Linked DNA regions of Homo sapiens: region 1 is linked to region 2. A link means that fine-mapping ties the variant in region 2 to the expression of a gene that starts in the linked region. Tissue or cell type: whole blood. Region 2 holds a variant in brackets; the other region holds the start of a gene. All regions are shown on one strand. Distances are from middle to middle.

What was found. PIP is the estimated chance that this variant, and not a neighbour inherited with it, causes the effect.
Region 1: WDR6 starts here. The variant in region 2 is fine-mapped to the expression of WDR6 in whole blood (INTERVAL, PIP above 0.99).

Annotation. Positions count from the first base shown.
Region 1 is chr3:49,003,786-49,011,875 of GRCh38, forward strand. It overlaps WDR6 (WD repeat domain 6), which reads left to right and starts at 3,606. Exons shown (of 6, transcript NM_018031.6): 1 at 3,606-3,746; 2 at 7,850-8,090. The coding sequence starts at 3,647. It overlaps P4HTM (prolyl 4-hydroxylase, transmembrane), which reads left to right. Exons shown (of 9, transcript NM_177939.3): 5 at 313-475; 6 at 1,076-1,261; 7 at 1,992-2,082; 8 at 2,279-2,402; 9 at 2,902-3,368. The coding sequence ends at 3,122. RefSeq lists an enhancer at 2,384-3,372 and silencers at 3,511-3,560, 4,101-4,280.
Region 2 is chr3:48,017,372-48,025,474 of GRCh38, forward strand. It overlaps a transcript of MAP4 not described here. Among named protein-coding and RNA genes, the nearest start is that of MAP4, 5.0 kb to the left of the region's middle. The variant G/T (reference allele first, on the strand shown) is at 3,515.

The DNA of each region.
Region 1 (8,090 bases), 990 kb after region 2:
CCATATGGCTCAAGCTTCCTTTGGAGAACCTTCTCTGGCCACTCTAATAGGGGGTGGGCCTCTTTCTTCTTAGGGCCAAATTAGGGCTTAAACTGAGAAAAGGAACTGCTCTGGGTCTTCCTGTAAGGCCTGATGTGACAGAAACCAGGTTCATCTGACCCAAAAGTCCAGGTGGGGGACAAGTGTACAAGGCCCCTCAGTGCCTGAGGTCAGGGGCTGCTGCTGCCTTTGGGGTAGGTAGGGAAGTGCAGCCTGCCACTGTTGCCTCCCAATATGGGCTTGGTGGGCATTGATGGTGGGTGCCCTGTGCAGGAGTGCTGAGTCTGCAGGAGTTCTCCAACATGGACCTTCGGGACTTCCACAAGTACATGAGGAGCCACAAGGCAGAGTCCAGTGAGCTGGTGCGGAACAGCCACCATACCTGGCTCTACCAGGGTGAGGGTGCCCACCACATCATGCGTGCCATCCGCCAGAGGTGAGCACCTGAAGCTGTTCTCACTGGAGCAGGGGGAGAAGACTGGGCAGGGCCTCCACAGAAGTCCTTGTCTGGGGCCAAGAGGACAGAATGGATTAACCCATTTGGGATTAAGTTCCATTTGTTAGACCAGGATTGGGACCCACTGAAAGACAGGCAATTAACAAAGGCAAATTAGCCCTCCTTGCAGGCACACAATGGGCAACTGGGGTTAGATAGAGATTGAGCACTTCTTTCTGATTAGATAAATGACCTCTTATCTTTGACCCCTTATCTGACCCCGTCACAGCAGGAAAAGGGTTTTTAAATAAACAACTTTCTTCCAGGGAGGAGGACCTCAGGACTCCCCGCCCCCTTTATTTAGTGGAAATGTCAACATTTCCACATAGCAGGTGTCTCTGTCTTTGGCATCTGAGGGAGAAGGATCATCATGAGTAACCCCCTCCTGCTCTTACAGGGCCAGTCTGAGATGGCTTAAGGGACTTCCAGGGGAGGTGGGTAGGGGCAAAGCTTGTGGCAGGCCTAGGGTCCACCTTGGCCAGCTCCTTCAGATCACCACCTTGCCTGGGGCTGCCCAGCCAAATGCCTGCTGCCCACCAGGGTGCTGCGCCTCACTCGCCTGTCGCCTGAGATCGTGGAGCTCAGCGAGCCGCTGCAGGTTGTTCGATATGGTGAGGGGGGCCACTACCATGCCCACGTGGACAGTGGGCCTGTGTACCCAGAGACCATCTGCTCCCATACCAAGCTGGTAGCCAACGAGTCTGTACCCTTCGAGACCTCCTGCCGGCAAGTATCTCCCAACTGGGGGCTGCCTTCAATCCTCAGACCAGGAACACCCATGACACAGGCACAGCCCTGCACTGTGGGCGTGCCCCTTGGCATGGGGCCAGGAGATCACTGGGTTATCCCGGTTAGTGATGCCCTCACCTCTCCCCACAAGTTGTTTACCCAATGGCTGGAAAGGGGTGGCTACTGGTCATCGTGACCACTGGAGTCAACACAGACTGATGTACCCACAGACACCAAAACTTGCCCCCTGAGTTCTGAAGCAAGGGGCAAGGCTGGGCCCCTAGCTTGTCCTGCCCATTCCTCCAGGTGTTGATCTTGATTCCACTTAGAGAAGCTGAAGCTGTGCCTCCCTCCCCTGTCAAGCCAGTTCTTTCCTCTTCAGGTGGCTGTTCTGGCCCAGCCCCTTCCCATCCCCAAGGAGCCCTTCAGCGCGCCCTGTTGCTTCTGCTAGCCTACCTTTCCCTGCCAGGCCCTTGCTCAGGGCCATGGCATTTAACTAAGTGCACCTGTGATCTTGGCCAAAAAACCATTGCAACTCACAGTAAGAGACTGGGTTTCGGGGAAGGAGGGGCTAGGGACATTTTGGCACTGGCCTGCCCTATTGTCTCCCATCCTAGTCTGTCCTGGTCCCTGGCAACAGGAACCTGGGCAGCTTATCCTGCCCACAGGTAAGCCCCTGGGAGCATCCACAACTGGGGACCTGCTCAGTGCCCCCCCTGCCTTACAGCTACATGACAGTGCTGTTTTATTTGAACAACGTCACTGGTGGGGGCGAGACTGTTTTCCCTGTAGCAGATAACAGAACCTACGATGAAATGGTAAGGGTCAACTGGGCTATTACTCTTGTGGGCTGGCAGGGGCTTAGACAAGTGAAGTACACACCTCTCCAGGTCTAAGGATGTGGGCCCAAATTATTCCTTGGGCATATCTGGTTGGTTTCCCTTTGGTCACCCTTGGCTGGCCTGGCCATAGAGTGGGGACAGGTTGAACACCCCACCACCCTGCTGCCCACAGAGTCTGATTCAGGATGACGTGGACCTCCGTGACACACGGAGGCACTGTGACAAGGGAAACCTGCGTGTCAAGCCCCAACAGGGCACAGCAGTCTTCTGGTACAACTACCTGCCTGATGGGCAAGGTGAGGGCCTATGGCCAGGCCTGGGGGGGGTGCCCTGAGTACAGCTTCCCTTTACCCAGCCCCCGTCTGCCACAATGGAGGGCTGTTTCTGGCTGCTTTCCAAATAGTTTTCTGCTCCTGGTGCCTCCCAAAGGCCATCCTTAGTGACTTTAGCAGACTGCCCCAGGACCTGTACTGCTTATTGGGTTATATCCATCCCTATCATTCCCTGATGCCCCAGCCTTCCTACTCCCTGGGGCTTGGGACACATGTCCCTTGCTAACCCAGGATGGGAAGGGATATGGACAGGCCCAACAGCAAGAAAGCTGGTTTCAGAGGGCCAGTAGTGTTGACTATACATTAGTGGGCTGAGATGAGGAGCCTCCAAGGAAGCTTTAGGTCTGGGTGTTTGCTACACAAGGAATGCATAGCTGGACCCACCTTGGTCATGCTCTTGGTGCCTATGAGGCCAAGCTCTGGCCAGCCCAGCCTAGGATCTCACGTCACCCTCCTCTTCTAGGTTGGGTGGGTGACGTAGACGACTACTCGCTGCACGGGGGCTGCCTGGTCACGCGCGGCACCAAGTGGATTGCCAACAACTGGATTAATGTGGACCCCAGCCGAGCGCGGCAAGCGCTGTTCCAACAGGAGATGGCCCGCCTTGCCCGAGAAGGGGGCACCGACTCACAGCCCGAGTGGGCTCTGGACCGGGCCTACCGCGATGCGCGCGTGGAACTCTGAGGGAAGAGTTAGCCCCGGTTCCCAGCCGCGGGTCGCCAGTTGCCCAAGATCAGGGGTCCGGCTGTCCTTCTGTCCTGCTGCAGACTAAAGGTCTGGCCAATGTCTTGCCCCACCCCGCCAGCCGCGATACGGCGCAGTTCCTATATTCATGTTATTTATTGTGTACTGACTCCATCTGCCCCGTCAAATAAAAAACCACAAGGTTCGAGCCGCCGGGCCCGACAAACTCCGGGTCGGCGAAACAGAGTCCGCGATAGGTGCAGCGGGCTGGCAGCTGGGAGCGCCCCGCAAGCGTCACGTGAGGGGGCGAGGGGCGGGATGCCCCTCCGCGGGCCCCGCCAATGATGAGCTGGATTGCGTGGGACGAAGGGTCGTCATTGGACAACCGCCGCGGGCGCCCTGGTCTCTGCTACCTGTAGCTGAGGGCGCTGTTGATGGGCAGCGCGGCGCGCTGGGAAGGCTCGTTCTCGCGAGAGTTCAGCTCCCTTCTTAGCCGTGGCTGCCTCAGCACCTCGAGGATCGACATGGACGCTCTCGAGGACTACGTTTGGCCGCGGGCAACCTCGGAGCTTATACTCCTCCCAGTGACGGGTCTGGAGTGCGTGGGGGACCGGCTGTTGGCGGGTGAGGCTTGGCTTGAGGCACGCCTGGTGGAAAGGGGGAAAGAAACAGCGCCTCCCAGGGGCGGTGCCACAGGGACAAAAGGGGTGCCCTGAGGAGAAGGACGGGCAGCAGGTTGAGGCCGATCGGAGGTGGGAAGGGAGCCCCGGAGATGGCGGGGACGAGGGCCAACCTGAAGAGGGCGGGGCCCGAGAGACAAAGCTGATGTGGCCGCCGCGGCGCTTCATAAACTTCAGCCCGCGTGGAAAGGGCGGGTGGAACCGCGGGAGGGTGCAGGGGAACGCGGCCGCGCGGAGGCGGAGGCGGAGGCCCGGGAGCTGAGGGTTGAGGGGGTGTGCTCCCTTCTAGGAGATGGGCGGGGGCTTGGCCTCTCCGAAGGAGACGGGGCCGAGCTGGGGGGGGCGGAGGGAGGAGGAGGAGGAGGAGGCGGAGGCGGCCCCGGCCCCTCAGGGGGTGTGGCCTCTTGGGGAAGGCGGGGCCGGGAGAGGGCAAGGGTGTGGCCTCTCGAGGGCGGGATGAGTCTCTTCCCCCTAAGGTGGGGGTGAAGATCCTCTGAGGAGGGTGGCGTCGCGGAAAACGGCGGATAAGACCTTTCCGAGTAGGGGGCGGTGCCCGGGGAAGCAGGGGCTGAGACCCCCTCCTGAGATGGTTGAGGTCCAGGAAATCAGGTGTGGAGGTCCCTCCAAGGAGAACCGGGTCGCAAAGGACAGGCGAGGCCTGGGACCTGAGGTGTCAGAGTCCAGGCTGGTCTCGAACAGTCATTACATGAAGCCACTAATGACCCATGTTGGTGCTGCTGAGTTGTATAAGGGTCCTGAGGCAGGGCCTTGGCGGTCAGGCCTTGAGTGAGTTGCCACCAGTCCTAAGAGGGTGTGTGTATGGGGTGGGGATGATCCAGTTTTGATCTGGTGTGGGGGTTCTTGGAGCGCGGAGTTCCTACCGCGAGCTAAACTCCTAAGGCTCCTTGAGGGGGAACAACGAAGCAGAAACTCAAAGAACCACAAGAGTGAACTAGGAAAAGGGGTGAGTTCCTGGCAAGAGGGTAAGCATGCCAAAGGCCTTGAGGCTGGAAGAATCTGTCATTTTGGGGGAAGGAGGGAATTCTTGTGAAGTTAGAGCAGGAATGGAGTCTGGGAGGAAAGGAAGCTGGACAAGCGAGCAGAGGCCACATTGTTTCAGGCCTTGATCTGACTTTATCCCTAAGGGCAGTGGGGAGAACCTATTGAAGGGTTTTAAGGTGGGGAATAACTTGGGAAATGCAGTTTAAGAAGCTCTGCAAGTGAATTCACCTACTTCTGTGGCTTCCAAAGTGACTTTTATATAGCTACAATTCTGTGTGTGTGTGTTTTTTGTTTGTTTGTTTGTTTGTTTTTGAGACAGTCTTCCTCTGTCACCCAGGCTGGAGTGCAGTGGCACGGTCTCGGCTCCCTGCAACCTCCGCCTCCCAGGTTCAAGTGATTCTCCTGCCTCAGCCTCCGGAGTAGCTGGGATTACAGGTGCCCACCACCATGCCCAGCTAATTGTTGTATTTTTAGTAGAGATGGGGCCTCACCATGTTGGCCAGGCTGGTCTCAAACTCCTGACCTCAAGTGATTCGCCTGCCTCAGCCCCCCAAATTGCTGGAATTATAGGCATGAGCCACCATACCCGGCCTCTCTAGCCTCTTCCTGAGCTCTTCATTTCCTGTTCCATCCACCATACTCAATGCTCTTGCCCATCTCAGGGCAATCATACATGCTGTTTTCTCCACCAAGAAAGCTGCAAACCCTCCCATTGCTCCCCACCCCCCCCCCCCCGCCCCAACATTTCCCAGTCCCCCTCTTCCGCCTCCTTTCCTCTGGCTAACTGCTGCTTATCCTTGAATCCTAACTCTAAATATTGTGTCCTCAAGTTGGCCTCCCCTTACACTCACCCAGTCTTGTTAGATTAGACCAGGGTTTTCTCAATCTTGCCTCGATTGACCTTTTAGACCAGATAATTCTTTGTTGGAATGCTGTTTGTGCATTGTAGGATGTTTAGCATCATCCCTGGCCTTACTTGCCAGTAGCACAACCCCTGGAGACAGCCGTACGTGTCTCCAGCTATTGCTAGATGTCTCCTGTGGGGAAAGTTGCCCCCTGTGGAGAACCACTGGATTAGACTTTCTCATTTTACATCTTTTATTTTCTTTTTGCATTGTCAAAATCCTTCTCATTTTATTTTACTTTTTTTTTTTTTGAGACAGAGTCTTGCTCTATTGCTCAGGGTGGAGTGCAGTGGTGCAATCTCAGGTCACTGCAACTTCCACCTCTTGGGCTCAAGAGATCCTCTCACCTCAGCCTCCCAAGTAGCTGGGACTACAGGCATGCGCCATTATGCCCAGCTCATTTGTATAATTTTTTTAGAGGTGGAGTTTTGCCCTGTTGCCCAGGCTGGTCTCAAACTCCTGGGCTTAAGCGAGCCTCCTGCCTTCCAAAGTGCTGGGATTATCGGTGTGAGCCACTGTGCCAGGCCCCATCTCTATTTTTTTTTTAATTAAAAAAAAAAAGTGAGGTGAGGAGGAGGCTCTGAGTTTGAGAAATTTGTGGTTGAAGTGAACATCAAGCGTGACTGATGAGGCTGGGCGCGGTGGCTCACGCCTGTATTCCCAGCACTTTGGGAGGCCGAGGTGGGCGGATCATGAGGTCAGGAGATCGAGACCATCCTGGCTAACACAGTGAAACCCCGTCTCTACTAAAAATACAAAAAATTAGCCGGGCATGGTGGCGGATGCCTGTAGTCCCAGCTACTTGGGAGGCTGAGGCAGGAGGATGGCGTAAACCTGGGAGGCAGAGCTTGTAGTGAGCCAAGATCGCGCCACAGCACTCCAGCTTGGGCGGCAGAGTGAGACTTTGTCTCAAAAAAAAAAAAGAGTGACTGATGAGGGGGCCGGGCACAATGGCTCACGCCTGTAATCCCGGCACTTTGGGAGGCCAAGGTGGGTGGATCACCGCAGGTCAGGAGTTCGAGACCAGCGTGGCCAACATGGTGAAACCCTGTCTCTACTAAAAATATAAAAACTGGTCGGGCTTGGTGGCTCACGCCTATAATCCCAGCACTTTGGGAGGCTGAGGCGGGCAGATCACGAGGTCAGGAGATCGAGATCATCCTGGCTAACACGGTGAAACCCTGTCTCTATTAAAAATACAAAAAATTAGCCGGGCATGGGGGCAGGCCCCTGTAGTCCCAGCTACTCGGGAGGCTGAGGCAGGAGAATGGCCTGAACCCGGGAGGTGGAACTTGCAGTGAGCTGAGATCGTGCCACTGCACTCCAGCCTGGGCTACAGAGCAAGACTCCGTCTCAAAAAAAAAAAAAAAAAACTAGCCAGGTGTGGTGGTGGGCGCCTGTAATTCCAGCTACTTGGGAGGCTGAGGCAGGAGAGTTGCTTGAACCCAGGAGATGGAGGTTGCAGTGAGCTGCACGGTGCCACTGCACTCCAGCCTCAGCGACAGAATGAGACTCTGTCTCAAAAAAAAAAAGAATGACTGATGAGGGAAGCACAAAGTCAGCACTGAAAGTCCAGCTGAAGCTGAGACCAAGGATTTTCTTTTTTCTTTTTTTTTTTTTGAGTCTTTCGCCCAGGCTGGAGTGAAGTGGTATGATCTTGGCTCACTGCAACCTCCACCCGCTGGGTTCAAGCGATTCTCCTGCCTCAGCCTCCTGAGTAGCTGGGATTACAGGCACGTGCCACCACACCTGGCTAATTTTTTAGTAGAGATGGGGTTTTCACCTTGTTGGCCAGGCTAGTCCTGAACCCCTGACCTCAGGTGATTCATCCGCCTGGGCTTCCCAAAGTGCTAGGATTACAGGCGTGAGCCACCGTGCCTGGCCGAGACCAAGGATTTTCTTTTTTTTTTTTTTCTTTTGAGACAGAGTCTGGCTTTGGCTTTCCAAAGTGCCCAGATTACAGGCGTGAGCCACCGCACCCGGCCGAGACCAAGGATTTTCTAAGATTCAAGCTGCAGGATTGTGTGTCCTGATGCATTCATAGGCTACATGCCGAGAAGTTTCCCTGATCCCCATCTCTTCCCTGTGGGTCATCAGAGTTAGGTACCTAGCTCTGACATGGCTCTTTGCCTCTATCTAGGTGAGGGTCCCGATGTCCTGGTGTACAGCTTGGACTTTGGTGGGCATCTGCGGATGATAAAGCGAGTGCAGAACCTGCTTGGCCACTATCTTATCCATGGCTTCCGGGTACGGCCAGAGCCTAATGGAGACCTTGACTTGGAGGCCATGGTGGCTGTGTTTGGAAGCAAGGGACTCCGAGTTGTGAAAATTAGCTGGGGACAGGGCCACTTCTGGGAGCTTTGGCGCTCTGGCCTGTGGAA
Region 2 (8,103 bases):
CTATCTTTTCTTCTGCAAGGAGGGAGGCAGGCAGGAAGAATCCTGAACATCAGGAAAACATTCCACCTGATCTTTAAAGGGACCCCAATGCCTAGATGTCTTTTTCTTTTTTCTTTTTTTTTTTTTTTGTAAATCCAAACTCTTACGTGTAATATCAAGGCTGACTGACAAGACTCAGTCCTATCACCCACCATAATCATCAGCAGCTTTCCATGTAGGGTCTCCCTACAATTTAGTCACATGGGACCATCTACCATCTTACATTATCACTGTACACCCTATGCTCATTTGCTCTCCAAACTTGAAGTTATCTTCTCTCCCTCCTCATTTGTGAAAGTCTTGAAATCAAGGTCCACATAAATTGTCTTACCACCTTTTCTGTGACTGCTTTTTAGAATCTTTCTCCCAGTAGTATTCAGAACTAATACATCATCTGTACTTGTAACAGTAGAGTCTGATCTATACTGTAGTTCAGTGGTCCCCAAACCTTTTGGCACCAGGGACAGGTTTCGTGGAAAACAATTTTTCCACAGATAGCAGGAGGGGTGAGAGGGAGGAGATGGTTTCGGGATGAAACTCTTCCACCTCCGATCATCAGTCATTAGATTCTCACAGGAGCATGCAACCTAGATCCATCGCATGTGCAGTTCACAATAGGGTTTGCGCTCCTATGATAATCTAAAACCACTGCTGATCTGACAGAAGGCAGAACTCAGGCACACTTATCGCAAAGTTAATGTAATGCTGTTCACCTGCTGCTCACCTCCTGCCGTGCAGCCCAGTTCCTAACTGGCCATGGACTGGTACCAATCTACAGACCGAGGGTTGGGGACCCCCCACTGTAGTTAGTTGTATATACCAGCTCCTGTAAACTGCTGGGTCCCAGAAGAGAGGACCACATCAAAGTGATGTGCACACCTTCTCTGTTCCTAGTAGACTACAGAGGAGACAGGCCAAAATGATAAAAACCAACAAAACAAGGGGCTAAAAACACATTTCTAAAATGACACGATGAAAGTTATTAGAAATTGAATCTAATTTGAAATTAATCAGAAGTTCCAAAATTACAAAAACTCTTCACAACTAGAAAAAGAATAAACAGATTCAAGGCTGAAAGGTTATCACCAATTACAAATATTCACCTTGGCTAGGTGTGGTGGCTCATGCTTGTAATCCCAGCACTCAGCACTTTGGGAGGCTGAGGTGGGTGGATTATGAGGTCAAGAGATTGAGACCATCCTGGCCAACAAGGTGAAACCCCTCTCTACTAAAAATACAAAAATTAGCCGGGCGTGGTGGTGTGCACCTGTAGTCCCAGCTACTCGAGAGGCTGAGGCAGGAGAATCACTTGAACCTGGGAGGTGGAGGTTGCAGTGAGCCAAGATCGTGTCACTGCACTCCAGCCTGGGTGACAGAGTGAGACTCTGTCTCAAAAAAATAAAAATAAAAAAGAATATTCACCTATTTTCTTCCACTTTCTAAACACAGTTTGTACAAGAGCAAGCATGTTGTCTGGAATTATAGAAAGAAAGCCAGTAAGGAGTAACCGTACGAACCAGCTCTCCATGCTGGTCATCTTATCATTATTAGGCATAGCAATAAAAATAGCTCTCTCTGCTTTTAGAAAAGCATGACATGATGCAATGTGGCAAAAACAAATATTCAAGATGGTCGACCAGTTACTGGCCTGGCATGGTGACTCACACCTGTAATCCCAGAACTCTGGGAGGCCAAAGCAGGAAGACCACTTGAGCCCAGGAATTCAAGACTAGCCTGGGCAAGATGGCAAGACACCATCTCTACAAAAAAAAATGTTTTTAATTAGCTGGGCATGGTGGTGTGTGCCTGTAGTGCCAGCCTCTCAGGAGGCTGAGGCAGTAGGATTCCTTGAGCCCAGGAGCTTGAGGATGCAGTGAGCTATGATTACAACACTGTACTCCAGTCTGGGCGAGAAAGTGAGACCACATCTCTGAGGGACAGAGAGAGAAAGAGAGAAAGATATCAGCCACTACCATCATGTTAATATGATCATATAAATATTAAAACTTTATAATTATTAAAATATTAAATCTCTATAGTTATCAGCTCATATATCTGTCAGAAAGTAATAAGCATATCATGTAACTTTAGGATGACTTAGTGCTGAGGAGATTGGAAGAAAGGAAGAATATTCATACTTGATCAGCTCTTAGCTTTTGAGAACTATTTTATTAAAGAAAAAACTCTCTTTTGGCTGGGCATGGTGGTTCATGCCTATAATCCCAACATTCTGGAAGGCTGAGGCAGGAAAACTGCTTGAGCCCAAGAGTACAAGACCAGCCTGGGCAACACAGTTGAGACTGCGTCTCCACAGAAAACATTTTAAAATTAGCCTGCACACCTGTGGTCCCAGCTCTTGGGAGGCTGAGGTGGACGGATCACTTCAGCAGAGGAAGTTCAAGGCTGCAGTGAGCCGTGATAGCACCACTGCACTCCAGCCTGGGCTACAGAGTGAGGCCCTGTCTTGAAAATAATAGATAACAAAAGAAAAACTTCTCCCATTAAGCAAAGTGAAGTTTCACTCTATTTTATATCAGTGAAAATAAAGAAAAGTGGAAGGTAGAAGAGGACATAGGAATTTGTGCTGCCAATTCTATAATTTTTGTTTTGTTTTGTTTTTTGTGGGGTTTTTGAGACGGAGATTTTTGTATTTTTAGTAGAGACAGGGTTTCACCATGTTAGTCAGGCTGGTCTTGAACTCCTGACCTCAAGTGATTCGCCTGCCTCAGCCTCCCAAAGTGTTGGGATTACAGGTGTGAGCCACCATGCCCACCCTTGTAATTGTTTATTTACAATGTGTGTCCCACCCAGAGTTCCCCTTAACGCTTGAGTTCCTCGATGGCTAGGATAGCATCTTTCTCACCTTTTATCCTGGACATCTAAATATAATAAACTTGAAACCTCACAGGCTCTCATTAAATGCACATTTGTCCTGCTAGGTGCGCTCTGCTCCATACCATACCAGCCTTCTCTTGCTGGGGTTGATGTTTGCACAGCTGGAAGCACCCTCATAGTTCTTCTAAGTATTGGTTCTAGGCACGACTAAGGGTAGAGTAGCTCAGCTTTTCTGAGCAAGAAGGAGAAGATACAAACTCTATGGGAGTACTTAACAAGCATTTTGTAGTCGTGGCAAAGGCCTTACTTTGACCTAATATCTTACAGATGCTTTCAAAAAGGAGGGGGGGAATATCATTATTAAATGAAAATTGAACAGCAAAAGTTGAAGAGATCTTTCAAGTTATTAGTAACATAACTTTTAATATTTTACCTGAAATACAAGTAAAAATCTGAATTAAAAGTATTAAAAAAACAAAAAAAACACGCTGGATCAGAATTGTTCAGGGACAGGGTTAAGCAATATGAGTATTATTTGTTGTTGTTGTTTTGTTTTTTTTAGAGACAAGTCACACTATGTTGCCCAGGCTGGAGTGCATTGGCTAGTCACAGGTGTGCTCATTGTACACTACAGCTTCAA[G/T]CTCCTGGGCTCAAGCGATCCTCCAGCCTCAACCTCCCAGGTAGCTGAGACTAGAAGCATGTGCTACTGCACCAAAAATCTCAGTGTTGTTGGTTTTCTTGCAGTAAGGGTAATCATGACACAGAGAAATCTCATTAAAGTTGAGTCCGAGAGGCACCCACAATTGAGGGTCACTGAATTAATCAACAATCTACCTAATCCATTCAAGATAAAATTCACTGAAATGAAATGCAACACAGGATTAATACAACTTAACAATAGAAAGACATCACACTCCCCCTTGTTAGGAAGGTGTTTTAGAATCAGTTTACTAGATGTAGAATCTGAGGCACGGATTTTTGTACAAGTGATTTACTAAGGGAGTGCTTTTAGGAAAAACCTATAAGGTTTTATTTTATTTTAAGGTTTTATGATATTTTAAAGGTATCAACTATCCCCAAACTAATCTATAGTTTTTGTTTGTTTTTGTTTTTTTTTTTAGACAGAGTCTCACTCTGTTGCCCAGGCTGGAGTGCAGTGGCACATGATCTTGGCTCACTGCAACCTCCGCCTCCCAGGTTCAAGCAATTCTCCTGCCTCAGCCTCCTGAATAGCTGGGACCACAGGCGTGCGCCACCACATCCGGCTAATTTTTGTATTTTTAGTAGAGACAGGGTTTCACCATGTTGGCCAGGCTGTTCTCAAACTCCTGACCTTGTGATCCACCTGTCTTGGCCTCCTAAAGTGTTGGGATTACAGGCGTGAGACACCACGCCCGGCCTAATCTATAGATTTAACATAACCCCAAGCAAAGTCCAGTAGGTTTTTTCTTTTCAAATCAAACTGAAAAGTTGATCCTAAGTTTTACATAGTAATTTAAAAAGTCAAGAACAGCTAAGATAATCTTTGAGAACAAACTTAGAGGAACTTAAACTACTGGATATCAAAACTTACTGATGGATTGAACCATGTGAAAATGCTGAAAACTGATGAGTTTCTAACCTATGGCAATGTCATATGTTTGAAACTAAAAATACATAAATATAGTAATGAAAACATTGTGGTACCTGCACAATCACCAAGAAAGAGGCCAATGTACTTGGTGTGCTGAACATATGGAAAAACAAAACAAAACAAAACAAGAGGCCAATGCAAAAAAATGGTTTTGAAACGGAACCACATGCATATGGATACTTAATATCTGACAAATGTGACACTGCAAAATAGTGGGGGAATTAACTGTCTTTTCAATAAGTGGTGCTGGGTCAACTGGATATTTTGAGCTCTACCTCACAGTATATACAAAAAGTAATTCCAGGTGGATGGCAGCCCTAAATGTGAACGGTAAACAATAACATGGCGAATATTTTCATGATCACAGAGGCAGATGAAGAAAACGAACAGACAATGGAGAGAGTAGAGAGACAGGGACAAAAGAAGGAAAAAAGAAAAGCAAAAAGAAGATGATGAGGTGGGAGGATCATTTGAGCCCAGGAATTTGAATACAGCCTCGGCAAGGTGGCAAGAAGGGAGGGAGGGAAATTCCCCTCAGCAGTACTTACCAACTTACAAGAAACAGATGGGCTTATTTCTAATTGTAACACTAAATGATTTTTTTTAAAAAATGAAGTGATGCCTTTAAAACTGAGAAAAACTATTTTGAAGCTAGATTTTTACAGCCAACTCATCCATTAAGTGAAGGCTAAAATGGGAAATTCAAACACACAATTTAAAAAAAATTATTGGCTGGGCGTGGTGGCTCATGCCTGTAATCCCAGCACTTTGCGAGGCTGAGGCGAGCGGATCACAAGGTCAAGAGATGGAGACCATCCTAGCCAACATGGTGAAACCCCGTCTCTACGAAAAACACAACAAAATTAGCTGTGCGTGGTGGCATGCGCCTATAGTCCCAGCTACTCAGGGGGCTGAGGCAGAAGAATCACTTGAACCCGGGAGGCAGAGGTTGCAGTGAGCCAAGATTGCGCCACGGCACTCCAGCCTGGGCAACAGAGTGACACTCCATCTCAGGGGGGAAAAAAAAAAATTTATTTTCCAGGCATTCTTTCTGAAAATGAACTTCAGCACAGACTCCAGGAAATGAAAAATGAACACAGCATCCTATTAAAGCTGCAATATCCAAAAAATAGTACCATTAGCCTACAAGAGAAATGAAATGCAATCCTAGGATGACGATAATGCACTAGGATCTAGAAACAACTCTGTCCAAAATTAACCTTTCCATAGTGTAATTTAAAAAGACCAATGACTTAGACATGTGGTGCAAATGGTATATGAAAAAAGGTGCAATTAAAAACAGGGGAGGGGAGCAGTTTACTGAAAGAGAACTACACAAGAAAGTACTAATCCAAACATAAGGCAAACTGAACTATGGCATTATTCTGAGATAATTATATATTTTAAGGAGACAAGGCTTAGAATTAGAACACTCTCATCAAACTTACCAACATAAGATGGATCCATAAAGAAGGATATTTTGTATTTACATACAAATGAACATGTACAATATAATGTATCAAGAAAGAACAAAAAAGGAGAAAAGAGAAGGAGGCTTCGGAAAGATGGAGATGACTCCAAAACAGCAGCTGAAATCAACTGAAAGACTTTTGCTGACTCTCTGAGTTTACTCTTAAGTGGGCAGAAGTCAAAGAGAACTTTGCCTGCTCACTGGAATGTGTTTCTCTATTGGTCTCTAAGTCTGCATGTGCTGACCTTTAAAAGACAGTATAAGGTTTGTCTGTTTTCCCTTCTGCTAGCAGGCTGCTAGACTGAACATGGTAGACAATGACTTTCCCTCTGAAGTTGGCTGTGTTCAATATTCTATTGTTTTTCTTATACAAGCACTGGGAGATTTTTGCAATTGATGTATTTTTAATCATTTAAAACTAAGCAAGCCATGACAATATAAAAGACAAACTTACACCACAAATGAAACTACTAACAAAAATAACAAATATACTCATCTGGGGATGGCAGGGGTTGGGGGGAGACCCTCTCCTAAACATAGCAAGCACCAAAGGGCTGCTTTGACTTGCAATACTAAACTCCTTCCAAGAAATTTGGAAGTAAATTCAGAGTAACCAAAGATACAAAAAGCAATATGCAACAGGAGAAAGTATTTGGGTGTGAATAAAGAATCAAAAAATGGGCCAGGTGCAGTGGCTCACGCCAGTAATCCCAGCACTTGGGGAGGCCGAGGCAGGTGGATCATGAGGTCAAGAGATCGAGACCATCCAGGCCAACATGGTGAAATCCTGTCTCTACTAAAAATACAAAAATTAGCTGGGCGTGGTGGAGCGTGCCTGTAGTCCCAGCTACTCGGGAGGCTGAGGCAGGAGAATCGCTTGAACCTGGGAGGCAGAGGTTGCAGTGAGCTGAGATCACACCACTGCACTCCAGCCTGGGCAACAGAGTTTGACTCTGTCTTTAAAAAAAATAATAAATAAAAAAATTTTAAAAATGTACAAAATGAAAGGGACCGTGGCAAAGATGGGGATTCTGTTTCTTCTCCCTGGGTGCTCAGAAAGACATTTCCTATTTCCCTTGGAGTTAGAAGTTGAGACCATGTGAGTGGGTTCTAGACAGTGCAATGTGAGCTGAAGAATTATGCTTCACTACAAAGCACTTGATGAAATTCTGCTTGCTGGTGCTCTTTGCTATCAACCAACTAAATACAAAGAATCCAGCAGGAGACTCCAAGACACCAGATGGAAGGAGTTGAAATTCCTCAATTACATGACAGCCACAGGCTAAACACTCACACTATGACGTGAGCAAGAAATAAACCATTATTGTGTTAAGTCACTGAAATGCTAGTTATGTTAAAGAGTTAGCATCAACTATCCTAATTAATACAGAGATCTTACATATCTAACATCCTCATTTTACAAATAAGGAAACTGATGAACAATGAGCTTTCCAAAAATTATACTAGTTGGTAGGAGAAACAGGTCTCCTGACTTTCTATTCAGGGACTTTTACAAAGTAAAAGATTTCTGTGCTACATTTATAAGTAAAAGTTATTATCACAATATTTGTTCCAAAACCAAAAAAAGGCAGTGCAATCATTTCTTTTTCTTTTTTTTTTTGAAGCAGGGTCTCACTCTGGTGTCCAGGCTCGAGTGCAGTGGCATGACCATGACTTACTGCAGCCTCGACCTCCCAGTCACCTCTGTTTGCAAAAAGAAAAGAATTCTCCACGAAGTTCTTTTTCAGTCTACCATTTTATGATTTGACTCTCTTCATGTCGACAAAATTTCTTGAGTATCTATTAGAACTGTATAAGATTGTGGATATCTGAACATTTATTTACTGACAAAATGTGATTTCATATGGCTTGACTTAATAGTAAATGACAAGCACTGCATTTTTAGAAAGCGCTAATTTTATTAGGTATACATACCTACACACTTTTTTTTTTTTTTTTTTGAGACAGAGTCTCTGTCATGCAGGCTAGAGTGCAATGGTGCGATCTCGGCTCACTGCCACCTCTGCCTCCTGGGTTCAAGTAATTCTCATGCCTCAGCCTCCCAAGTAGCGGGCAGTACAGGCGTGCATCACCATGCCCAGCTAATTTTTGTATTATTAGTAGA